7 linked regions of the Homo sapiens genome follow. The protein of the gene in region 1 purifies or fractionates together with the protein of each later gene. This does not show direct contact. Each region holds a gene or a part of one and is shown on either strand. Other genes may lie near its edges.

Region 1 (3,500 bases):
ATAAACATGAATGAGCTTAGAATGTATAATTATAGTCTTAACCCTGATTGCTCCCAATTATTAGGGCTTTCAATTTATCATTTGAGTTATTACTCTCTGAGTAATATCTTTTAAAAAATTGATCTATATATTTTTTGTTTCAAACAGTGGACCAGCATCTATACTTTCAAGATACTTATGTTTTCTACCAGTTTTCCTCTGATGAATGTAGCTACTTGTACTGTGAATTTGAAAGAGAAGAAGAATGGCAAAATGGTGTCAAGCTTTTACTGCAACTTGTGCCTCTCATTCCTGCCAGAGGTGGCATCTGTGAACTGTAAGTAGATGCTCTCTTGTGCCATTGTATTCTTACACTTAGACAACATTTACCATGTCTAGGGACTATATTCTGCTCTTTAAGATCACTGTCTCACTTAAGAGGGAGTTACTATCCCCATTTTTCAGATGCACATTTAGAAAGATAAAATAAATTGCAGAAAATTAAATCCAGCTAATAAATAACTGGTATTTAAATCCCAGAAGCCTATGCCTAACCATCTGTACCATGTGGTTTCTAAATTATCATTGTTATAGGAGTAGATGATCTAAATTAAGAAAAAACATATGATTGGGCTTAAGTTGGAATAAAATAGTAACTCCCATCCTATTCGCTATCCAAATCGTGACTTTCCTAAGAGCTCAACAGAATGTTTCTGAAAATAGTCTAGAAGCAACATTTGGCAAATTAAAACACGTGAATCATCACATGAAGATACTGAATCACTATATGATTAAAATGAATTAAAATTAATTAGGGAAGGCTTGGGAACAGGACTTGAGTCATGATGTGGTGATTCTGACATGACTTTGTTTATCCATGGTGATAGCTTATTTTAGAATTATGAGTTATGGATTAAAATTTCAGTTAAAAACTGTTACATATGCAGAACACTTCAGTGTCCAGAATGCTTTCCCATATTGTTGACTCTTTCACTTCTATGATATTAGCGGGGGCAAGCAGTATGGTCTTTATGTCATAGATAAGAAAGTAGGTTCAGAGAGAAATACCTGTATAACCATAACAAGGGTAACTCTTATTAGTTAAAAAAATGACAGTTGACTGTTGAGAAGGAGGTGGAGCAAGATTAGGGAATTGAAGTCTCCACCAATTGTCTCCCAGGCAGTGACCCTAATTTAACAACTATCTACACAGAAAAAAAGACCTTCATAAGAACCAAAAATCAGGTGAGCACTCATAATACCCGGTTATAGTTCCATATTGCTGAAAGGAGCACTGAAGAAATAGAAAAAACAGTACTGAATCACTGATACCACCTCACCTCCACCATTTACACCAGCGTGTACAATAGACACAAATAAAATTAAATACCTAGGAACTAACCAGAGAAGTGAAAGATCTCTGTAATGAAAACTGTAAACACTGATGAAAGAAATCCAAGAGGACACCACAAATGGAAAAAATATTTCATGTTCATGGATTAGAATAATCAATGTTGTTAAAATATCCATATTACCCAAAGCAATCTACAGATTCAATGCAATCCCAACCAAAATACCAATGACATTCTTCCCAGAAATAGAAAAAACAATCCTAAAATTTATATGAAACCACAAAAGATCCGGAATAGCCAAGGCTACCCTAAGCAAAAACAGCAAAACTGGAGGAATCACATTACCTGACTTCAAATTATGCTACAGAGCTATAGTAACCCAAACAGCATGGTAATTGCATGAAAACAGACACATAGACCAATGGAACAGAATGGAGAACCCAGAAACAAACCCACACACCTACAGTGAACTCGTTTTCAACAAGGTGCCAAGACATGCACTGAGGAAGACACAGTCTCTTTAATAAATGGTGCTGGGAGAACTGGCTATCCACATGCAGAAGAATGAAACTAGACCCCTATCTCTCACCATATAAAAAATCTAATCAAAATGATTTAAAGACTTTTAGAGCTCAAACTATGAAACTACAAGATTGGGGAAAATTTTCAGGAAATTGATCTGGGTAAAAATTTCTTGAGCAATACTCCACAAGCACAGGCAACTAATGCAAAAATGGACAAATGGGATCACATTAAGTTGAAGATCTTCCTGCACAGCAAGGATACAATGAACAAATTGAAGAGACAACCCACAGAATGGGAGAAAATATTTGTAAGCTACCCATCTGGCAAGGGATTAATAACCAGAATATATAAGGAACTCAACTCTATAGGAAAAAATCTAATGATTCAATTTAAAAATGGGCAAAAGATCTGAATAGACAGTTTCTCAAAAAAAGACATACAAATGACAAACAGGTTTATGAAAAGGTGTTCAGCACCACTGATCATCAGAGAAATGCAAATCAAAACTACAGTGAGATATCATTTCACCCCAGTTAAAATGGCTTATATTCAAAAGACAATGGCTTATGTTCAAAAGACAGCAATTACAAATGCTGAGGAGGATGCAGAGAAAAGGGAACCCTTGTACACTGTTGGTGGGAATGTAAATTAGTACAACCATTATGGAGAACAGTTTGAAGTTTCTCAAAAAAGTAAAAATTGAGCAACCATAGTATCCAGTAATCCCACTGCTGAGTGTATACACAAAAGAAAGATTATATATCAAAAGGATACCTGCTTTCCTATGTTTTTTGCATCACTGTCCACAACAGCTGAGATTTGGAAGCAACCTCTGTGTCTATCAACAGATGAATGGATAAAGAAAACGTGGTACATATACACAATGGAATACTATTCAGCCATAAAAAAGAATGAGAGATAGTCATTTGCAACAACATGGATGGAACTGGAGGGCATTATGTTGAATGACATACGCCAGGCACAGAAAGACAAACATTGCATGTTCTTATCTGTGGGGTCTAAAAATGAAAGCAACTGAACTCATGAACACAGTAGAAGGATGGTTACCAGAGGCTAGGAAGGGTAATTGGGGACTAGTGGGGAGGTGTGGATGGTTAATGGGTACCAAAAAAACGTTAGAAAGAATGAATAAGGCCCACTCTTTGATAGCACAACAGGGTAACTATACCAATAATAACCTAATTGTGCATTTTAAAATAGCTTAAAGAGTGCAATTGGATTTTTTGTAACTCAAAGGATAAATGCTTGAGAGGATAGGTACCCCATTCTCTATGATGTGCTTATTTCACACTGCATGCCTGTATCGAAACATCTCATGTACCCCGTAAATATATATACCTACTCTGTACCCAGAAAGATAAAAAAAGAGAAAAAATAAATAAAATCTCCTGTTAAATGACAATACTGAATAGTTAATATGGACTGTTTTTAGGAGAATAAGCTTCAGAATATTGATGAGACTGTGCTAATAGAAAGGTTGATTGTGGAGAATGAATTTTAGGTCAGGCACTGTGCTGAATGCTTTATATTCATTATTTTACTTTCAGAAGAATGTTATAAGACAGGTACTATTATTATCTCTATTAAATAAGAGGGGAAATTAGGTACAGAGATCGGGTAACC
Region 2 (3,500 bases), on another chromosome or scaffold:
CACCATGTTGCCCAGCCTGGTCTTGAACTGCTGGCCTCAAGCGACCTTCTTTCTTCAGCCTTCCAAAGTGCTGGGATTACGAGCATAAGCCACCAAGCCCAGCCAAAACTTAATACCACATTATACCTTCAAAATGTTAAAACAACTGGCTAAAGAGACTTGTTGGGGTGAGATAATGTTGAACCATTAGTCTTATTTACTTTTACTTTATTATTATTATTTACCTATCTAAGAAACAAATTATAGTAGATGCTATAAAATCAATGCAAATCAGGATTTCAGTTTACCTATTTGCATCAGAGTCTCTTCCATACTGTTGGTGGCTGTGACCATTGCTACTGATGCTCCCAGTGGATCGCTGTCAGGGAACTGAACTGGTTCTGGTACAATGCGCCGGTCATTTAAACCAAGCGGTCCAGCAAGTAATTCAAATTCTTCTTCACCAGTTAGCTTTTCATCTTCATCAACATCCAACATGTCCCAGTCTTCTGGAATTTAAATAAATAAATGTATAGTATGTGAATTTAAATATTACATAAATCTGCTGGCAATGGTTGTTCTGAAAATACATCTAAAATGCAGATGAGCAGCCAGATGCGATGGCTCACGCCTGTAATCCCAACACTCTGGGAGGCCGAGGCGACTGGATCACATGAGGTCAGGAATTTGAGACCAGCCTGGCCAACATGATGAAACCCCATCCCCACCAAAAAATACAAAAATTAGCCAGGCATGGTGGTGTGTGCCTGTAATCCCAGCTACTCAGGAGGCTGAGACCGGAGAATTGCTTGAACCTGGGAGGCCGTGGCTGCAGTAAGCTGAGATCACGCCACAGCACTACAGCCTGGACAACAGAGTGAGACTCCATCTCAAAGAAATAAAAACAATAAATAAATAAATAAATACATACATACATAAAATGCAGATGGACTGAAAGTCCAGTGACCACATAATGAACTATGGCACCATCTCCTGAAAACTTAACCAAACTGCACTCCTGAAGCATAAGTGAGACTCTCAGGGAAAGGGAGTCAATGTAGTTAAATAAGTTGACAGCAATAGCAAATGCTACAGCTGGTAATAGAGGTTTAAACTAATTAAAAATATTGTCATGGGTCCAACAAAGAGTTCTTAGCTGTCTGTAATCATTAGGGAATGAGTTATTTCAAGAAAATGAGTGCTCCAGAAAAATCAATGCTCATCTCTATTTATTTTTTACTTTCCACAATTAGGGTGGAAATTCAAAATATACCACATCCTTTCCCTACTTTGAAAAAAAAATACACCTAATAGAAATTAATATTCTGTGGTAAAGTTGGTCTTTGAAACCACGTTCTTTTCCTTTGACTTTTAAACCAGCGTTGTTGCTATTAAATTCCCTTGAGTTTTTAAGGGAAAATTTAAGTTAACATGTACACAAATACAAACACACACACACACGAAGGTGAATTTTAGTAACAGATGTTAAGCAGAGAGGATATATAAAAAAACATGTAAAATAAAGAAGCTCTCAAAACAAACTACCTTCATACACACTGTCTTGCTTGCCAATTAGATCTGGAGCTTGTCCCTTGTACCTGCACCAAACATGAAGAACATTGCATTTTTATATAAAACAGTTAGTACCCCAAGATGCAAATTAAGTCATTAGAACATTTTAAGAGGTCATTAATAAAGCAGCACAAAATAAAAAAGTATGTTTCATGTTATAGGCTAACATAATAAAAACTGCTGGTATGTAGGTACACACATGCTTACAAAATCAATGATTATTTTACCAAACTACTGGGGAGATTTCTGGGTTACCTAAAACAACTCTTTTAACCAAATTCTATTCCATAAAGCCTTAAAGATTTTAATAGTTGACAATTAAGGGCAACAAACCTACTCTCTAGGGATTAAGGATGTAAAGAGATAATATTTTTATGGAACTCGTTTAATCAAAAGTCTGTTTTTTTCATCAGGAAAAAGATCTTAATTAAAATGCCAGAAATATGGTAGAAAATACAAATGAAAAGAATTGAGTAGAAGCCTCCTGAGGGTTAAGGCAAGGGTCCTGACCATTACTTGCCAACAAGTCAGAGGTTAACACAGTCAAACTCCAGGGAAGGATATGTTGCTATGCCATTATTCCTGGGAACATGAATTTCTGAAACCCCTCCATCCCTTCTGCCCAAAGTGTAAGAATCACGGGATTTCAGGGAAGGTTAAATGTAACTCCTCACGTGAAAAATCTACAGTTCCCAAGACTTAAGGTATGAGGTATCTTCAGGAGGTCTGGATATCTACACAATTTCAAGGTACCTTTCAGAACTTGTTGACTTAGATTTGGTCTTCATGGCTAAGTACTTCTCCCTGCAGGTGCCACATAACAGGTAGTACGGATTTCCACTCCCACATTCACCGCCAAACCAGCCATCCACATAGGAACCATTGCTGCGATAGCCCTGGCGGTTTGCACTGCGCCCACAGCCTGGATGGTTTCTCTTCATGTGCTGATTGAAGCTGACGACGCTGCATTCACACAGTTCACACACCACCACTTCTTCCCTGTCTTCAGACTCACAAACATGCTGCACAAAAGGATTTCATACCAAATGATTAGTCAATTTAACATAAAACCAAGAAGTACCAAGTAGATTATTTATATTAAATTACTTTATTACATATGCTAGAATATTTCCAACATGTTCATTAATGCTAAATAAAAAATTTCTTTCAAATCAGAATTCAGATAACACAATCGGAAGGTGTTCTTTGCCCTCTCTCACTCTAATAAGTTATATCAATAATACAAGTAACTGAGTATCCTACTGAGAAGAGTTAATGAACATGACAATCTGTCCTATCTCAAAATGAGGCTTTTTAAAAAAAAAACTCCACTAGTGAAAAGAACTAATTTTCATCTGGTCACAAAATGCATACCTACTTTATGAATTTTTGGGAAAAATCATTATGATTCACTTATTTATATAGCAGATTCTCTTTCCTGTAGGACTTACATCTATGAGCTTTTTGGTCTCCCTACTACAAAAATGTAATGCTAACCAATGTATATACAAATCCACCATGTACCTTGCCCCTAAATGGAGGTATTTACAAGATCTAGGTGAGCACTGGTTCCTAGAATAAGGCATTACATTGATTAAATGGAACCTATGAAGGAGAAGAACATGCATTCAGATAGCAATGTGAGCACAGCAGCCATGTTATATAACCTGTCAACGTCTACTGGAACCTGATGCTTGTTTTGTAATTTATCTTTGACATCAGAATCAAATATTACCACAGTATGACTCTATTCATCTTGTCTGGGGAGAGAAACAATAAAATCCCACAGAGAAAGCAAGAGAGACTTTTCCTTATTAGTTTGTAGGTATCAAAGTAACCTCATAACTTTAAATCCCCAAACCTCAGGATGAGATAAAAGACTTTTTAGAGTGTTTCAACTCTAGGCAAGGCTGCTGTTAGTAAGCTATATGAACAGGAGGGCAGGAAAA
Region 3 (3,500 bases), on another chromosome or scaffold:
GATTCAAACCAAGTTCCTAACAATATGTTACTAGGAAAATCACCACACAGGATGCATCCTACACAGTCAGAAAAGATGCTCTTACCAGGAAATGTCGGCCGAGCTTCCGGATTCGCTTCCCAGCAGAGCTTCATGAGACTGATAATTTCTCTTGGGCAGTACTCAGTGATGTCATCCACATCTGGCCTGTTCCCAGATTTTATGCACATTATCAACTGCTGCTCACAGATAGCATCTACAAAGCAAAGACTTTCTTTCAGGTCTTGCTCCTCTCTCAGGCAGGAAGGTGACAGAACTTGAACAATACTGCTCATTTTTCTCAGCCTCTGGTACAGCTGCCTCATTCCATAGAGTGGAATGGCCTTATGACAAGGAGCTGACATATTCCACTACAGAGATGACCAAACAATATCTTAATGTCTGCAGATAAAACAAAATTCTCGACAAAGCTGCCTGCTGATGGAACAAAAAGATTATGTGGGCAAGGCCAATGGCATGCTCCATGTGCAAAAGCAAATACAGGGCAGTCCTTGTCTTTAGGAGCTCAGTTTAATGAGAGTGACTTAAAACACAGAGTGATCATTGCTATTCAAGAAGGCTGAGGCTGGGCATGGTGGATCACACCTGTAATCCCAGCACTTTGGGAGGTTGAGACAGGCGGATCATGACGTCAAGAGATCAAGACCATCCTGGCCAACATGGTGAAACCCCGTCTCTACTAAAAATATAAAAATTAGCTGGGCATGGTGGTGTGCACCTGTAGTCCCAGCTACTCGGGAGGCTGAGGCAGAAGAATTGCTTGAACCTGGGAGGTGGAGGCTGCAGTGAGCCGAGACTGCACCACTGCACTCCAACCTGGCGACAGAATGAGACTCTGTCTCACGGGAAAAAAAAAAAAAAAAGGATGTACAAGGGGTTCCAGTAGCACAAACCTGACTAAAAAGGTCCAGGAAGGCTTTGTTGAGTCCAGAAAAATTAGCAGGTAAAGAATGGGAAAGGGAGACTTAAGGAGGAGGACTCCAGGAAGAGAAGCAGGATATCAACAGACTAGAAGTTACAGAGATCATGACGCATCCCACAAATTCCTCAGTGTAACTGCACACTGACAAAGAAGGGAGGGTTAGGGACGAGGCCAGTAGAGAAGCAAAGGCCAGAACATGAAGGCCTTTTATTCCACGCTGAGGAATTCGAACTTCATCCTGAAGACCACAGAGCATCTGGGAAGGATTTCCAATATGTGAGGGAGAGGGTTGCATGTGCCTTTTAGGACGACCATTTTGGCTGCCACATGAATGGTGGACGGTGGAAGGAGCCTGCTGCAGAAACGAGGAGGGTTTGAACTGAGCAGAGGCCAGTGGAGACAGAGAAAGGCAGATGGGTTGCAGATATATCTTGAGTCATACATATATCTTGAATTCACAGGTTTTGAGATCTGATAGAATGTGGGAGAGAGGGGCAAGGGCGAGTCTGGGATGACTCTGAAGTTTCTTATTGGGCAACAACTTGGTAAAAGGATGGCGATGCCACTTCCCAAGCATATGAAGAGGGGTGAAGCGGGGCGAGCTGCAGGACAGTGTCGACAGGATGTGTTTGGGGGATGCTGCTTTGGAGGTTCCTCTGGTACCTGCGATGGATCTGACTGTAAGACAAGTGGATATCCATTCCAGAGCCAGAGACACAGATTTAAGAAGCATTTGCAAAGAGATGATCATCAAACCATGGGAGCTGATGATCACCCAAGAAGAGTATGTAGGACAACATCCATCAGTTTATGCACTTAACAAACTGCAGAGTGTCTCTATCCTACACAAGCCACGACTTACTCATCTTTATATTCCCAATGCCGACTCAAGTGCCCACAGTAGGGACTGAAAAGAAATAATTCTTGAATGAAGGAGCAAGTGAATGAGTGAAAGTATGAAGTGTATGCCTTGTAGTGTGAAAGGCTAAGTCCTCACAAGCAGAAACAATCAACTTTCCTGTCTAGGAAGAACCCTGGAATTTCACAGCACCTCTCCAGCTAATGACACACTATCGAGGTTCCTATTCATCCTATGATCACTGATTCCTAAATGGGATTACTCATTCATTCAACAAAAATTTACTGGGCACCTATTAGTTCCAGGCACAGTGCGTGTAGATGCTGAGGGGACGGCAGTGGAAAGTAAGTAATGCCTTACTTTCATATGGCTCCTTATTTGCAAATATCGCCCAGAGTACTACAGCAAAGCTGTACACATCCGACTTCTCTGTGGGCTTTGCGTTGACGTCATTCAGGTGCTCGGGCGCCATGTAGTAGAGGGTGCCGCCATTCTTCTTAGCGGTGCCGTCCACTTCCCTCAGCTCATTGTGCTCTTCATTATTCAGTTTGCTCCACATCTTAAAGGAGGCAAGGCCGAGGTCTGCGATCTGCGAAAGACATTGAGCCACTGGGATTGTTTGGTGAAGGCCGTAAGCAAATCAGATCTGACTTTCAATTTTGGGCTTATCCATTATACATAAGGTACGGTAAATTTTCCAGAAATGGTTGCACTGGGCAGGTTCAAAACAGCGACTTCTCAACAGACTCATAGAAACTGTGTGTCTCCTCAGCCATTTGTAAAATGTCGCCCAGGAAACGTTCACATGAAATTCTGGTATCGTATTCCTTATGCAGTAAGGGGGAGGGGAAAAGCGGAAGATGTTTCTGACAAGAACAGTAACAACCAAACATATTTATTCTCATTCCCCATTGACTCTGCGTATGTTTTTCAACTATTTCTAGGGCTTGGGGGGAAAATGGTTATTTTCTTCTCTGCACATTTATGCAGCAGACAGTGGCTAAATACTACACCTTCTATTTCCCCAAATGGCGTCCAGAGGCCCATGGATGCAAGTGTCCAAGGATCCCAAAGACACACTGAGGATAAGGACTGCAGTGTTGCTTGTTTTGAGCTGTAGCCTGAACCTAAGAGGAGATAGGGTGGAAAGGAGGAGAAAAACAGACAAAAAAGCAGAGAGAAAAATAGCAAGGTCAGACACAGAACAAGAACAGTGCTGGCAGGGCAAAATGACAGGGCAGCACAGTTCAGAAGAGAATATAGGTGCCAGTTCCACTTCTGCCTCCAGGAATCCAAGCAAGCATGTGGGGATGAACTGTGGCACATGAGTACCTAAAATTCACAGATTCTAACCCACGACATAAGAGGGAAGTCATGAATTTGAAGATAGGTTATGAATAAGGAATTTTTATTCCCAGCCCTTTGTCCAAGACTAGGACAAAGCGCTAGACGCAGAACCTGCTGGTGATGAGAGGCCCCTGTGTCAGCAGCTCCTGGGTGCCTCCCCCAGGGCTGCTTCCCCTTCCGCTTCCCCTTTTGGATTCTTGTGCTTGGATTCCTGCTGCAGAAGCCAATTAGATATGACACTCCCCCTAGCTAAATCCTGCCCTTGAATGAACAAAAGAAAAATCCCTTTCCCTTGTTCCCTTTACGACAATGGAAAGAATGTGTTCAAAGGAA
Region 4 (3,500 bases), about 110 Mb from region 1:
GGAACACTTGTCATCCCTGTGCATAACACCCCGTATAGCACTTAGGGTGGAGAGAATCATTCCTGGCTTGTAGACCAAGAAACTGAGGCAGAGAGGAGACAATGAGCCTGAGATTCTGGGGTGCCTCTGGTCACTGTGGAGCTGTGGTGCTGGCTGTCACTGCCCTCTGGGAGTCAGAACCACTGGCCATACTTCCCTTATGATCCCCCAGCCCCACCCTCACGACCCTGGGCTCTGGCACTCACTTGGCCCCTTGACCGTGACCTTGAGCTCCCCGCTGCCGGCACCCTTGGTAAACACCTTGAAGTCAGCCACCTCTTTCACGCGAACACCCTTGGGCTGCAGGCCTCGCCCAGAGGCGCGGCAGGCGTTGGGGTTACAGGCTAGGGGAGGAAGAGAAAGGAGGTTGGGGGTGCTGAGGGGCCTTGGACCACTAGCCCCCACCTCCCTGTGCACAGTCCTTCTAACCCCTCCCAGGCACAGGCAGTGGCCCACGGCCCTGCTCTGGAGCCCTTTGTGTCCCCAGCACAACCGGGGCTGCCGGGCTGGAGCTGGCTACAGGCCCCAGATCAGGCAGGTTACAAGAAAGTTTCCGAGCCAGTGCCACTGGGGAAATGCATGGCAGAGCCTGGGCTGAGAGTGGGCTCAGAGAGACAGGGAAGGCCCCTTTACCCAGCCCAAGGCCATCCATCTAGAGCCCTCTGGGCCTCTCAGGGCACCAAAGCAACCTTAGGATCTAAGTCATGCCACAAAACATCCAGCAATGCCACAGAACAAGGGCTACTTCATAGAACTCGAAGCCTGCCATACAACACAGGCAACGTGTGGACATCAGCCTACCACAGACCGTGGCCAGTGGCAATGAGCCCAGGCCTTGCTATGGAACACAGGCAAAGGAATGGGAATCTCAGCCTGCCACAGAATCCAGAAAAATGGCATGGGACCCACAGGTGCTACGAAACAGGACACGACACATATTCCAGGACTACCATGACCATAGGCGATGGCACTGCCCAAGGGGTACCACGGAACACAGGCAATGGCTCAGAGCCCAGATTTCATCATAGAAATCACCAGGCAAGTGGCAAAGACACTAGACCTGCCACAGAACACAGACAACGGCATGGAACCTGGGGCCTGCCACAGAATGCCAAGGAAGGGGGGGCGATTCCACACGGCCCGGGCCATGCCACACAGCACAGGTGAGGCCAGTCAGCTGCGGCCATGCCTGGCCCCGCCTCCACTGGAGAGCATTAATGTGGCATCACTCTCGGCCTGGTGGACGATGGGCACTGAGTGCAGGGAGAGAACAAGTGGGGCAGTCACCACCTGAGGGCTTGGCATGCAGGCAGTACTCCCTAGATATGCCCCCACCCATACAGCCCCGTCACTTCCGCTCAGCCCTCCCAGGGTGGCACATGTTCTGGGACCCTTCACTGTGGCCTCCCAGCTGTGCTCTTAGGAACTCCAGCCACCTTGGGGGTGGGATGGAGGACTCAGGGAGGGGGTCTCTGCAGACCCCCGCCCCAGCTCTTCCTCCTGCCCCTTGCAAGCCTCTGGCTTTGGTAAGGGCTACCGTGGGGAGCAGTGAAGGGCCCTTACCTTCCGACACATGGACAGGGAAGGGACTGCGGGTGATGGGGGCACCCGCAAAGGCCACATGCACGGTATGTGGCCCCTCCATGGCAGGTCTGTATGTGCAGCGGAACGTGCTGTCACCCTTGTCCTCCAGGGCCACCTCCACTGTGTCCCGCCGGCCCTGTGGGTCCACGATCACCACAGCAACATCGCCAGTGCCGGCCCCTGCCGAAAACAGAGGCTGTCAGCACCACTCTGGACACACACAGCTGCCCCGGTGCCCTCACCCTGAGGCTGCCCACCCTCTGGCTGGCATCCCTGTCCCAGCCTCCCCCCACCCCCACACAGCCCCACATGGTCAGGGGCTTTCCACCTGCACCCCCTGGGGCCCGTCCTACCCGCAGTGTAGATGTCAAAGTAGGTGGGTTTGTTGGCCACATTGCCCACAGGTTCCAGGCCAGGGCCACGGGCTGACACCTTGTTGGCATCTCCCAGGGCCATGCCCACGTTCACCTCAAAGGGACTGCGTTCAATGTTCTGGCCAGCAAAGAGCACGGTCACCTAGGGGTCAGAGGTCAAAGGTTAGCTTCTAGGGGAGAGCAGTCCTGAGAGGGGGCAGAGGGGCACAGCCAGGCCAAGGAGGGTGAGAGGCGGGCAGCTGGGGCTCTGGGCAGGCGCGAGGTACAGGCTGAGAGAGGGGTCCATGCAGCCGGAACCAAGGATGTGAAGAGCAGCGCAGGCAGGGGGGCCTAGAGGGAGATACCTTGTGTAACCCAGCGACCTTGGGCACATAGGAGACAGCATAGGTGCGATCCTTGTCATTGTTGGGAACCACCTTAGCCTATTAGGAAGGAAAAAGATTGGAAGCCTCTCCAATGACCATAGCCCCTCCTGACCCCACAGTGCCTTATGCACCCCAGCCCCACTCAGCCCCCATGGTGACACCTTCCCCAGACTGCACAGCACAGTGTGTGGCTCTGGCAGTCACCTCCGGGCCATTCCTGTTGTTGGCCCCACGCTCTCTGGTTCCAATCCCAAGTGAATCCCTCTGTCCCCAGCGGCCTCTGCATACCTCCTCGGTGTGGCCTTCAGGGTCCTCGATGTAGACCAGCACCTCGCCCACGCCCGCGTCCACCGTCTGCACGGTGAAGTGGGCAGGCTGCAGCACGGTGTTGCCCTGTGGCTCGATGCCTACGGGGCAGGAGCAGAGCCCAGGTTACTCAGGGAGAGCCTACATGTGCCCAGCTGCCCAGGAGGGCCGCCAGGGGCTCACACATACCAGGCCCATAGGCGATGGCTTTCTTGGGGTTCAGCTGCTTGGATCGAACAGGGGCACCAGGTTTGAGCTTGGCCTTGGGGAACTGGGACAGGTAGGTCATAACAGAATGCTCATCCACGTTGGGGTCCACAATCTCCTCAGGGGCAATGACCTGCGATGGAAAGGAGTGATGTCACATGGCGCCCTCTTTTCCCAGCAGCCCCAGTCTCCCCCTGCACCCTGGCCAGGTAAACTTACAGACCCAACCTCTGCCCCTGCCCCCTTTCCCCCCTGCCCCATCTGCGCATGTACCTGGGGCACCCCAAGCCAGTCGTCGGCCTGCTGCATGGCCTCCCGGGCGTTCTCCACGGGCTGGTTGGGGTCCCAGGCCTCCCAGTCGGGGCAGAGACCTGGAGAGGTGATGGAGGGAGACGATGGTGAGGGGCAGCCAGCCGGCCAGGATGCAGGGCATTTGTTCACCCAACACCCTCAGAGGCTGTGGCTTTACACCCCTTCCCACCAGCTCTAGGCCTTGACCAGCCAGGTTCCTGCTGACCCCATCAGCTTCGAGGCCCCTCACCACGTAGGAGCAGGACAGCCCTCTCCACCACCAACAATGAAGCCTTTCTGCCCTGGCTGACGCAGCCTGGCACCAGCCCTGCTG
Region 5 (3,500 bases), on another chromosome or scaffold:
TAACGCAATCCTGCCACTTCAAAGCCTGTTACTGACCATCGCTGGTCTCAAGTCAAGCTTATATCCTACCACCTGGGGAATGGCACACACAAGCAGGTCTGTGCTGCAGTAACAGCTAATTCTGAGGTGAAGCTGCAGTGAGGAAGGTCACATGCTTCTTACCGCTATGGCAAGACACGGAACTACTGCAGTGTGAGTGTCAGCTCATTTCTTGGTGTCTGCTGGAGCCACAAGGGGATTGCTATTGCACATACAGTGTGAAGGGAAGAGTAAGCTCCCTACAGTACAGGAAACGCGAGGGGAGAAGCATGAGAGCACAGAAAACAGCCTTCCATGAACAGCCAATGTGAGAGAGTGGTGAAGTGGGAAGCACAGGCAATGAGGATGGGCAGTCATGACAGTGAGTGACTCAATCTAGAAAGCAAGCATATCACATGCATGGGGATTGTCATCCTGTTTGAACAATTATTGCTTGGTGAGCTTGATGTGAGAGACAATCAAAACAAAAAACAGAAATAATCACAGGGGAGCAGAGCTGTCAAAAGCTAAATACAAGAAGCTCAGGAGGCGTGACCATTGCTTATCCACAGAGCTCATGCTGGGAGACACACCTCTCTAGTCTGTCGCCCCTGATGCTGCGAGGCCCCTTTAGAACGAAATTTCACTTTTCATTTTACCCTACATTACCTAATACAGGATTCTCTATGAGGAAAGAGAAACCATGAGGAAGAGTCAACCATACAGCTAAACCTTCACGTTCTGGCTTCTGTATACAGGCCTCCCATTAAAGAATGAAACAAACCTATCATTTTCTGACCAGAAATTAACTCCTAAGAAAAGGAGACTTGACTATAAAAGATGTAGAAAGGCCTTTGAGAGAATATGCTAACTTCTTAACCTTTTTTAGTTCTTCTGAAAAGCCCTAATAAGTAGTATAGACTTACCCCCAAGATTCATTTTTAAATTTCCTCCTGCCATTATAATACATTTCCCCTATTCCCACATCACCAGATCCTACTAACAATAACCTATTATGAACCATAACTTACAGCCCAACATCCCAAGTACAGAATTTCCCTGTTGACCCTACCTACAACACTGTAAGTGGCCTTCTCATTAAAGTATGAGAAGCCACAGTCTAAGAAGACAAACTCTAGAAAGTGGTGTTTTTCTCCTCGTCAATCTAGCACACATCTCCCACTTCAGTGTGAACGTGGGAGGGCATGGACTTTTGTATGCTTTCGTCACTGCTGAGTTTCCAGTTGGGGTAATAACACTGCCCGGCACATATTTGCTGACCAAAGGATCGCTCTCCCATAGGAACTAGGCATCCCTGACCTCCCTATATATACCCATGGCCATTACCAATCCATGTCTGTCACAAGCTAGGCTCACATGGGGTTATCACTGAGGGCACCGACTAGGAGATGATTTCTCAATTAAGCATGTTAAATATTTATTAGAATAGGATACAGAGATAGATGGAAGTTAGGAATCAGGGAGCTATGAGACTGCAGAGTTGAAAGAACTCATGGTTAACAGGCTTTGCAATCAAGGACCAAAAATAACAGAAAAGATAATTACTACAGAGCTGGTTGCAAGGACAGACTTTTTTCACCATCTTCCCTGAAGCACAAAGAGAGAAGCAATGTGTTAAAGATAAAGAAACATCAGTGTAAAATATTTAGAATCTCCAAACAGCACACAAACGCCCAGCAAGAGAAAGCAGGAGGTGAGACAGATAGGTAGGACCTGGTAGCCCTTGAACAGATATAGTTCTACAGAATGTTTCGAACTGGCTGTTAGCCTTAACATGATTATCTGATGGGCTGTGTTACGTGGCTGACAGATGTGGAGTTTCTACACCCAATCTTTGTATCTAAAAGAGTAATGCCCTGCACTGAGGTTCTGGAATTGGCGAGGAACTCCAGTCTCTCAGGTCTCACTGCTTGAATTTCAAATACCCAAGCAGCGTTTCCACTGATCCTGTCCCACTTCCTGTTTCTCCAGCTGGGCTGTTAAAAAGCACTCAGTTAAATGCATTAGCAACCCCACCACAGTAGACTGATAGTATCACTGTTACAGCTTTAAGTTCATTTAAATTGGCTATTATATTTCCACATCCCACATATATATACTAACCCCTTCCCTTCCAGAATAGTTTTTAAAAGTACGTGGAAAACAAGCAACCTCTGAACATAAATATAGCAGTAAGCCAAGCCGTGCTTCCAAACCATTATCTATTTTGAGAGCATAGAATAATACATCTCAAGCTAGTAAGGTGCCCTACTCTTTCAAGTACCTGTTTCCTTTCCATATTTCAAGTATGTCTCTTGGGATTTGTTTACCAGGCTTACATGATGTATCCTGATGTGACTTCTAAGGATGTAGGGCCTTTCATTTTGCACCCAAAGGGAAGTGACAAGATTCAATATTTCTGACCACTTTCATTTGAACAACAGGGGTAATACCACCTACCTTTAAAAGTGGGATGAGAATTTATGGAATTTAATTAAAGTGGTATTTGTCACATTATATTTCAGAAACAGAAGCTTTGGTTCTCTTTCTTCCCTCTCAGACACTTCAGGCTGTAGACCATAGGCCTGACATGTCACATTCTACTTCAAAAACACCCCCCTTGCAACTTTCTAGGTGGACATGCAAATTAAATGCTTATTCAACTGTCAAAGTGCTAATATGCACAGTCCAGGAAAGTCTGACCAGAAAAATTATTGATCTGAGTCCTCAAAAAAAAAATCACACAAGCCTGGAAAACGATCGAATTGGGTAATGCCTTCCACCCGCTTCTTTGTTAAACAGCCTGGGACTAGTGCATGTGGGGAAAGTCAGTAAAGACTGCCTCTCAAGTACAGCTAACTCATTACTAATACAGGTACAAATAATAGGGGTGCTGGAAGGAGCCAATCCATTTCTAATGCAGGTAAAAATAACAGGGGTATGTGTGAGGGAAATGGCAGTTAAACGTGTCATATGCTTCGCTTTAAATCTAGTCACTACAGAGAACAAAGGGAGGTTGTAAATTCTTCCCACCGTGAAGAGGCCCAAGGGCCTCTGACCCATACTCAGAAACAGTGATGGCCTGAGCACATGCATGTAAAAAGCACTTCAATAATCACATCAGAAGTTTGAGGCCTTAACAGAGAAGATCTTTATTCAAATTATAACAAAGGTTTTTCTACTTGAACTATGTTTTTGTTTGTTTTAAACTGTTCTTCCACGAACAGTTATTGACTACCTGTTCTGTGCCAGGTAGGCACTGACTCATCAGAGAGAAACCATGAGTGCTTTTCAAGCGCTACCTGTTTCTCTGTACATGATCTTAGCTTGATTTGTACGATGGCCCTAGGACACTGGCATCATCTCCATTTCACATATGGGGAAGATGGGGTGACTTGCTATTGTGCCTTGTTTTTAAGTAGAAAGCTGCAAAATCCCAGAAATCATGTTAGAAGGAGAATTTTCACTTGCAGATGCTGGGC
Region 6 (3,500 bases), on another chromosome or scaffold:
TTCTATAAATTTCCATCTGAAAAAGGCTTATTCATTTTATATTTACTTTTACTTCCAATGTTATAGTATTGGACATAATTAAAACAAGAAGTCTCTCCTGAAAATGGAAGGGCATATAAAACAGCCCCTAAAACTTTTCTCCATGAAGATAGACACATGAAATAATAAACTATTTTTATTTATTTGAAGGAATATCGAGAATTATGGCTATGATCCTGTTCTTTGTGATAAAAATACTAAATACAGAAATTGCTTTACTGTTTTGTTAATTTCTTTATAAAACTGCCCTTTTTTTCTTAAGAGACTGAAATGATTCAATTCTTATGATAGTAAGAGCAGCAACTGTAGATTTTTCTATATTTTTCCCAATGTAGAATAATAATTATGACACAATATAGTTTCAATTCATGAAGCTTAAAATTCATATACAGTAATAAGAGAGGAATAATAAAATGTTTTACTTACCTTTCCAGAAACAATCTTTTCATAAATCTGAATTGGTTGGTCTGCAAAGAATGGGGGATAGCCAGCTGCCATTTCATAGATTAGCACTCCTAATGCCCACCAATCCACTGCCTTATTGTAGCCCTGAGATAAACCAACACCAATGTCAATTGTTACTTAAGTTACTCAAAAGAGAATGAAGTCAAAGATAATTTCAAAATGATCTGGAAGCATATAAAAATTTTTTTAAAGCAATTGCTGAGCAGCTATTCAGGACAGAATTTAAAAATGAACCAAATGTATCAGGTCAGATTTAAATTAAACAAAGGAGAGGATTTCCAGATACTGAAATTGGATATTAGGAAAGAGTATTAAATCTTCTTCCTAAAATTATTAAGAATATTATAGACAATGAAATTTTCTTTATTTCACTGGTATAATTTAGTTCTTGCTCAATAACAGGAAGGCAGTTAGACCACATTACTTCTTAAGGCCCACTCTAGGTCCATAATCTTATGAAACAGATTTTCCACAGCATGCCTAGAAAGATCAAAAGTTTTCAAAGAAAATAATAGAAACTGGACTACATAGTAAATAATGAAGTTGACTTCAAAATACTCTATATTTTTGGAGTTAGGAGGGTGAATGTGCTAGGGATAATCCCATCTGCTTCATAGGATTTTGTGAAAGCAAAAAGTTTAATGTAAAATTCAATTCATGTAAATATTTAGGTATACTTTACTTCTGCTATCTACTGTCTTGCTTCCTATATCTAAAAGATATGCAGGAAAAAAATGAATTCACAGAGTTTTGTGAGGACTGTATCAAATGAAAGGGAGTAACGTGTGTAAAAAGTGCTTTGCAAACCAAATGTAAAAATCACAGGTTATGTTTGTTTTTTTCATATTAAGCTTACTAAAATTAAAATTTGTAAGTATTCATAAGAAAATAAATAAGAATAACATCTTCATATTAACATGCTAATATAGTTTATTAACTATGGTCAGTATCAACTGACACAAGAGATTTTTTAACAACCCCAAAAACCTGTCATGAAGAGAAATAAGCTGAATTCTACCCAGATCTATTGCTCTGCCCTCAGAGGTACCCTCTACCATCACGACTCACCACATTCCACCCTTTTGTCAAAATTTTAGCTTTACAAACTACTTAGTTTTCAAAATTCTAGCAAAAATATAATACTTTAGCGCTATAGAGATTTTCTTTTTCTCTTTTTTTTCCTGATACTGTGTATATCTTTTTAAGGGAAGGAGTGGTATAACAGGAATAGCACTTTGTTTTTTAATAGAAATAGGCATTAACTCTCTTTAACTTTTTGATTCATATGTTTAAATTGTGTGCTAATGTTTATAGTAAATATGTCAGACACAAGTTAATACCCAAGGTATAGAAATCAAAACACATCAATAAGAAAAATGTTAAATTACAATAGATAAATGGGCCAAGGAAATGAACTAATAATTTACAGACACATAAAGAAATACCAAATGGCTATTAACCATTTGAAAAATAAATAAAAAACATGAGAATTAAAACAATGAGATACAATTTATTGCCTATGAAATCAGTAAATATTTTAAAAATGAGTATACCCAGTGATAGTGTTATGAAATAGGCACTATAATACACTAATGGTAGAAGTGTAAAATGGCATAATAACTTTGGAAAGCAATTTGGCAATATGTATCAAAAGCCTTAAAAATGTTCCTATTCCTTGACCCAGTAATTCTACTTCTGGGAATATATGCTAAGGAAATAATGTAAAATAAGGAAAAAACTTTTATGTATAAGGATGTTTATCATAGTTATTTATAATAATAAAAAAATCAAAAATAAAACCTGAACACTCAACGATAGAAGAGTGGCTACATATTTTATGGTACATTTACAAACAAGCCATTAGAATGATGTTTGCATGCTTGTTATTATAAAAGTGAAAAAAGTCAGAGACAAGACTATATATATTTACTATGATTTCAACTATGACAACCCAGAAATAAGTCCATACACCTACGACCACCCGATCTTTGACAAAGCTGACAAAACCAAGCAATGGGGAAAAGTTTCCCTACTCAATAAATGGTGCTGGGATAACTGGCTAGCCACATGCAAAAGACTGAAGATAGATCCCTTCCTTATACCATATACAAAAATCAACTCAAAATGGATTAAAGACCTAAATGCAAAACCCCGGAGTATAAAAACCTTGAAAGACAACCTAGGCAATGCCACCCTGGACATAAGAATGGACAAAGGTTTCATGACAAAGACACCAAAAGCAATTCCAACAAAAGCAAACACTGTCAAGTGGGATCTAATTAAACTGAAGAGATTCTGCACAGCAAAAGAAACTATCAACGGTAAACAGACAACCTACAGAATGGGAGAAAATATTTGCAAACCATATGCATCTGCCAAAGGTCTAATATCCAGCATCTATGAGGAACTTAAACAAATTTACAAGAAACAAACAACCCCATGAAAAGGTGGGCAAAGGACATGAACTGACACTTTCTAAAACAAGACATACATGCGGCCAACAAAGATATGAAAAAATGCTCAATATCACCGATCATTAGAGAAATGCAAGCAAGTCAAAACCACAATGAGATACCATTCCACACCAGTCAGAATGGCTATTACTAAAAAGTAAAAAAATGGAAGGGCATAGTGGCTCACCCCTGTAATCCCAGCACTTTGAGAGGCCAAGGAGGGTGCACCACTTGAGGTCGGGAGTTCAAGACCAGCCTGACCAATATGGTGAAACCCTGTCTCTACTAAAAAATACAAAAATTAACCAGGTGTTGTAGTGCATGCCGGTAGTCCCAGCTACTTGGGAGCCTGAAGCACGAGAATCGCTTGAACTCAGGAGGCAGAGGTTGTAGTGAACCGAGATCACGCCACTGCACTGCAGCCTGGGCGACAGAGCAAGACTCCATCTCCAGAAAATAAATAAATAAATAAATAAATAAACAAATAGTCAAAAAATAACAGATGCTGGCAAGGTTGCAGAGAAAAGTGAACACTTAGACACT
Region 7 (3,500 bases), on another chromosome or scaffold:
ATCGTCACAGAGCTGAGTGATAAGGATTATTAAGGAGATATTTAGAATACCGCATAAGGGCCGGGTGCAGTGGCTCACGCCTGTAATCCCAGCACTTTGGGAGGCTGAGGCGGGTGGATCACCTGAGGTCAGGAGTTCAAGTCCAGCCTGGCCAACATGGTGAAACACCGTCTCTACTAAAAATACAAAAAAATTAGCCAAGCATGGTGGCATGCGCCTGTAATCCCAGCTACTCAGGAGGCTGAGGCAGGAGAATTGCTTGAACCCGGGAGGTGGAGGTTGCAGTGAGCCGAGATCGTACCATTGCACTCCAGCCTGGGCAACAAGAGAGAGACTCCATCTCAAAAAAAAAAAAAAAAAAAAAAAAAAAGTAGAATACTGCATAAGTGCAGAGGAAAGAATAATTCCTCTTCTGTGGTCCTCAACTTCCATGCCTATAAAATGGGGAAAACCTACTCAGCTTCTCATTACTTAAATGAGGCCTAAAATGAGGTGTGAAAAGTGCTTGTATCTCTTTAGAGGTGACCTATCACCAGAAGTACTGAGAAACATCTAAACGCATAGTTAACCCCAAACATTTGCTCATCAATCTCTTCTCCCAAAAAACCATAAGACCTGTCCATAACTAGAGAGCTGTGTTTCCAGTTCTCTTTCATCCCTCTGAACAGTTTAGAGCAGAGGGAGAAAGCAGAGAAAGCACCAAACACCAGTTTCCAGGTAGGATGTGGTGGATGCTCGCTGTGTATGTTCACAGGATCTTTCACCATCCAGAGCATCCCACTGTGCACACTCCCAAACTTTCATGGACATACTGTGTACTTCCTTAAGTCTCTCCCTCTTCTGGTGTTCTCTCGGCTTGCTGTTTATTGCTTTATAACCCGAGATTGCTAAGCTGCGCTGAACTCTGCTCAGGACTGTCTTTTAGTCATGCTGCCATTCAATCAGGACCAAGGGCAGTGGGCCCAGCTGGGCCCAACTCAGGGACACCAGCCCCTCCCAATCCCCTGCCCCACCCGAGCCATGCTGAAGTCACTTGTTACCCCATCAAGTGTCTGTGGACTTTTCCCCTTTTGCCCAGGATCCCAGAACCTCCCGCTTTTTGCCCTAAGAAAAAGGAATTCTCAACATTCCAAGTTGGTAAGCAGAGAAACAACTTTCATAGGAATCTCTGGGGAGTCTGAAGAACTAGAGAATGTATTTGGTCTATACCAACCAAAGGTAAATCCTGCCTGAGGGCAGTCTGGATGGGCTGTCCAGGTCCCTCCCAGGATATGGAAGCCTTCCCTTCTGCCTCACCCCCTGGGATCCCCTACCCAACTAGCCATCATGGAGTTGCGGGTGGCACCTGCACCACATCTAAGGCTACGCCTACATTCATTACCTCCTCAGTGTTCTCGCCTCCACCATCCTTGCCCGAGCTGCTAGGCTTGGCTGTGCATTTGGCAACCTTGGGGGGCTCCTGAAAGGAAAAGATGAAAGTAAAGTTAGCAGATGCCAGGAGAAGGGAGAGGTCTTATCTGGCTCCCTTAGATCTTTGTTGCAAATATCCTCTGTCCAGTTGAATCAATCAATTAGAATCTACCTTGTGCGGAGCTGGGGTGGGTGGAGGGATCTACGCAGAAGGAGATTCAGCCCCTCCAAAGAGTTTAGAATCTGGTTAGGAAGTCACCCCAAACACACACTAATTCAGCGTGAGAATGCTCCATCTTTCACCTCATCAGGCTGGTGCAGAGGTTGGGCCTGGGAGGGCCTTTGCTCAGGTCAGAACCAGGGTGAGGAGGCTTAAAGAAAAAGCATCAGGGAACAGCTGCTCACTGGTTTCTGGCTAAAGTGGTCAAAGGTGTGCCGGAGGCTTTCATGCTGGAGTGCAGGGAGTCACCACTCTCCCCTCACAGCCACCTGGAAAGACTGGGAGGCAATTTTTGGATGTCACAAATAGCGCACAGACAAGAGGGTGCTACTCAGCATTTAATCAGTAAGGCCCAGGAATGCTAACAGGTACAGAACTGTCCCACTCAAAATGCCAAGAGCACCTCAGTTGACAAGCACTAAGACAGGGATGGGGGTAAAACCCTGAACTGTTACAAAGAGTGAGCACTAGTCTGAAGTCTCCTTTGGGAACCTGGCAGCTGGCTCAGAGCCCTGGCCTGCCCAGCATCTCTTCCTATGCTTCGAGCCAAAAAAAGCAACTGCACAGGGACAGGATAGGGAAAATGTGAAAAAGACTTGGGGATTTAGGTCTGACTGCAAGCTCAACACAAATCATCCATGTGCAGCTCATGTGACCTTCCATCTTGTTAAAAGACCTGTGCAGACTGCTTGGCACTGACAGGGCTATCCTGGAGGATCTGGTTCAGTCATGAGCATCAGGCTTGGGAGGGGCCATGACAAATCCTAGTGTTTCTTAGAGGGAAATGCAACCCATACTGGGAGTGGATTCAAAGGCATGTCCCAAGACCAACAGCTGCAGGAACTGGGATAGTTAACAATGGAAGGGAGGAGTCATGAGGGATGGAGAAGCAAGATGGATCTTAAACAAATGAAGATGCAACTTGGATGCCTTGGATGCAACTTGTCCATATGGACCAGAGGCACGAGAGCAATGGGCTGAAGTTGCAAGCCACCTGAAGCTCCAAACAAGGAAGAATTTTATCATGGAGCAATTGCACTAAAACTGGCCACCTAGTGAAGCCGAAAGCTCCCCAACCCCTGAGAACATTCAAGCAGGGGCTTGGTGACCTCCTGTAAGGCATGTTGCAAAAGAAATTCAAGCCTTTAATGAGGACTGGAGGATCTTGGAAATCACTTCCAGCTCTGAGATTGTGCAATTCAATAGCAGCCAAGCCCCTTCAGTGAGAAGTGTTAAATCGAGTTATTGTGACTATGGGGGCAAAAGGATTTCAGGGAGAAGAGAGCTCTGTGTGGGCTGGAGTAGGGGGAAGGCTTCTTGGAGGTGGGGAGGAAGAAAGGTGTGGTGTAGAGCAGCTCCATGCAGTAGGGGGAAGGAGTTCCTTCTTTGGCCTGAGCACGCTCCTGCTGTATACTAACCCAGCTGGCCACACTGACCCTTATCAGTGGCTGAGAGCATGGGGTGGAGAGAAATAGGCCGGGGGCAGGGTGCAGGCAGGACACAACATTGAGGTGTCTGCACACACCCCAGACATGAACCCCTTGAACAAAGCTGACCCATCTTCATACATCTCCAATCTATTAGACCATAAGCTGCTTATTCTTTTTTGTACCCCTCCACCCACCCTACAGCACTCAGCATGATGCCTCAGACGTATCTTTCAAAGAATGAGCCTAAGAGAGATCCAGCTGCCTTAGTGTGTGGGTGTGAGTGGGCATGGAGGAACCAGGCCTACCACCCTTGCTCCCTGGCTCCTGCAGAACAGGTGAAGCACACACATTTCAGCCCAGCTCAGTAGTCAAATGCTGTGTAGCACAGAGGTTAAAAGAACATGTTTGGACTCAGCCCTGTGTTTTGGGCCCAACTCTTA

The links.
Region 2: the proteins of RAPGEF5 (region 1) and HERC1 purify together in Homo sapiens (affinity purification with mass spectrometry; 2 studies listed by BioGRID and IntAct, with this or other methods). This does not show direct contact.
Region 3: the proteins of RAPGEF5 (region 1) and RIPK1 purify together in Homo sapiens (affinity purification with mass spectrometry; one large-scale study listed by BioGRID and IntAct). This does not show direct contact.
Region 4: the proteins of RAPGEF5 (region 1) and FLNC purify together in Homo sapiens (affinity purification with mass spectrometry; one large-scale study listed by BioGRID and IntAct). This does not show direct contact.
Region 5: the proteins of RAPGEF5 (region 1) and WNK1 purify together in Homo sapiens (affinity purification with mass spectrometry; 2 studies listed by BioGRID and IntAct, with this or other methods). This does not show direct contact.
Region 6: the proteins of RAPGEF5 (region 1) and PRKACB purify together in Homo sapiens (affinity purification with mass spectrometry; 2 studies listed by BioGRID and IntAct, with this or other methods). This does not show direct contact.
Region 7: the proteins of RAPGEF5 (region 1) and PPP2R5D purify together in Homo sapiens (affinity purification with mass spectrometry; 2 studies listed by BioGRID and IntAct, with this or other methods). This does not show direct contact.

The regions. Positions count from the first base shown.
Region 1 is NC_000007.14:22,305,155-22,308,654, reverse strand, and holds part of RAPGEF5 (rap guanine nucleotide exchange factor 5), read left to right. Parts: intron 1-147; coding exon 148-316; intron 317-3,500. UniProt on the Homo sapiens protein: Guanine nucleotide exchange factor (GEF) for RAP1A, RAP2A and MRAS/M-Ras-GTP. Its association with MRAS inhibits Rap1 activation.
Region 2 is NC_000015.10:63,659,449-63,662,948, forward strand, and holds part of HERC1 (probable E3 ubiquitin-protein ligase HERC1), read right to left. Parts: intron 2,574-3,500; coding exon 2,305-2,573; intron 1,578-2,304; coding exon 1,525-1,577; intron 489-1,524; coding exon 288-488; intron 1-287. UniProt on the Homo sapiens protein: Involved in membrane trafficking via some guanine nucleotide exchange factor (GEF) activity and its ability to bind clathrin. Acts as a GEF for Arf and Rab, by exchanging bound GDP for free GTP.
Region 3 is NC_000006.12:3,081,994-3,085,493, reverse strand, and holds part of RIPK1 (receptor-interacting serine/threonine-protein kinase 1), read right to left. Parts: exon of another isoform or gene 2,834-3,500; intron 2,410-2,833; coding exon 2,181-2,409; intron 236-2,180; coding exon 86-235; intron 1-85. UniProt on the Homo sapiens protein: Serine-threonine kinase which is a key regulator of TNF-mediated apoptosis, necroptosis and inflammatory pathways.
Region 4 is NC_000007.14:128,836,906-128,840,405, reverse strand, and holds part of FLNC (filamin-C), read right to left. Parts: intron 3,247-3,500; coding exon 3,149-3,246; intron 3,009-3,148; coding exon 2,858-3,008; intron 2,770-2,857; coding exon 2,651-2,769; intron 2,420-2,650; coding exon 2,342-2,419; intron 2,140-2,341; coding exon 1,977-2,139; intron 1,804-1,976; coding exon 1,603-1,803; intron 384-1,602; coding exon 246-383; intron 1-245.
Region 5 is NC_000012.12:902,579-906,078, reverse strand, and holds part of WNK1 (serine/threonine-protein kinase WNK1), read right to left. Parts: intron 1-3,500. UniProt on the Homo sapiens protein: Serine/threonine-protein kinase component of the WNK1-SPAK/OSR1 kinase cascade, which acts as a key regulator of blood pressure and regulatory volume increase by promoting ion influx.
Region 6 is NC_000001.11:84,199,771-84,203,270, reverse strand, and holds part of PRKACB (cAMP-dependent protein kinase catalytic subunit beta), read right to left. Parts: intron 589-3,500; coding exon 466-588; intron 1-465. UniProt on the Homo sapiens protein: Mediates cAMP-dependent signaling triggered by receptor binding to GPCRs.
Region 7 is NC_000006.12:42,987,570-42,991,069, reverse strand, and holds part of PPP2R5D (serine/threonine-protein phosphatase 2A 56 kDa regulatory subunit delta isoform), read right to left. Parts: intron 1,460-3,500; coding exon 1,382-1,459; intron 1-1,381. UniProt on the Homo sapiens protein: The B regulatory subunit might modulate substrate selectivity and catalytic activity, and might also direct the localization of the catalytic enzyme to a particular subcellular compartment.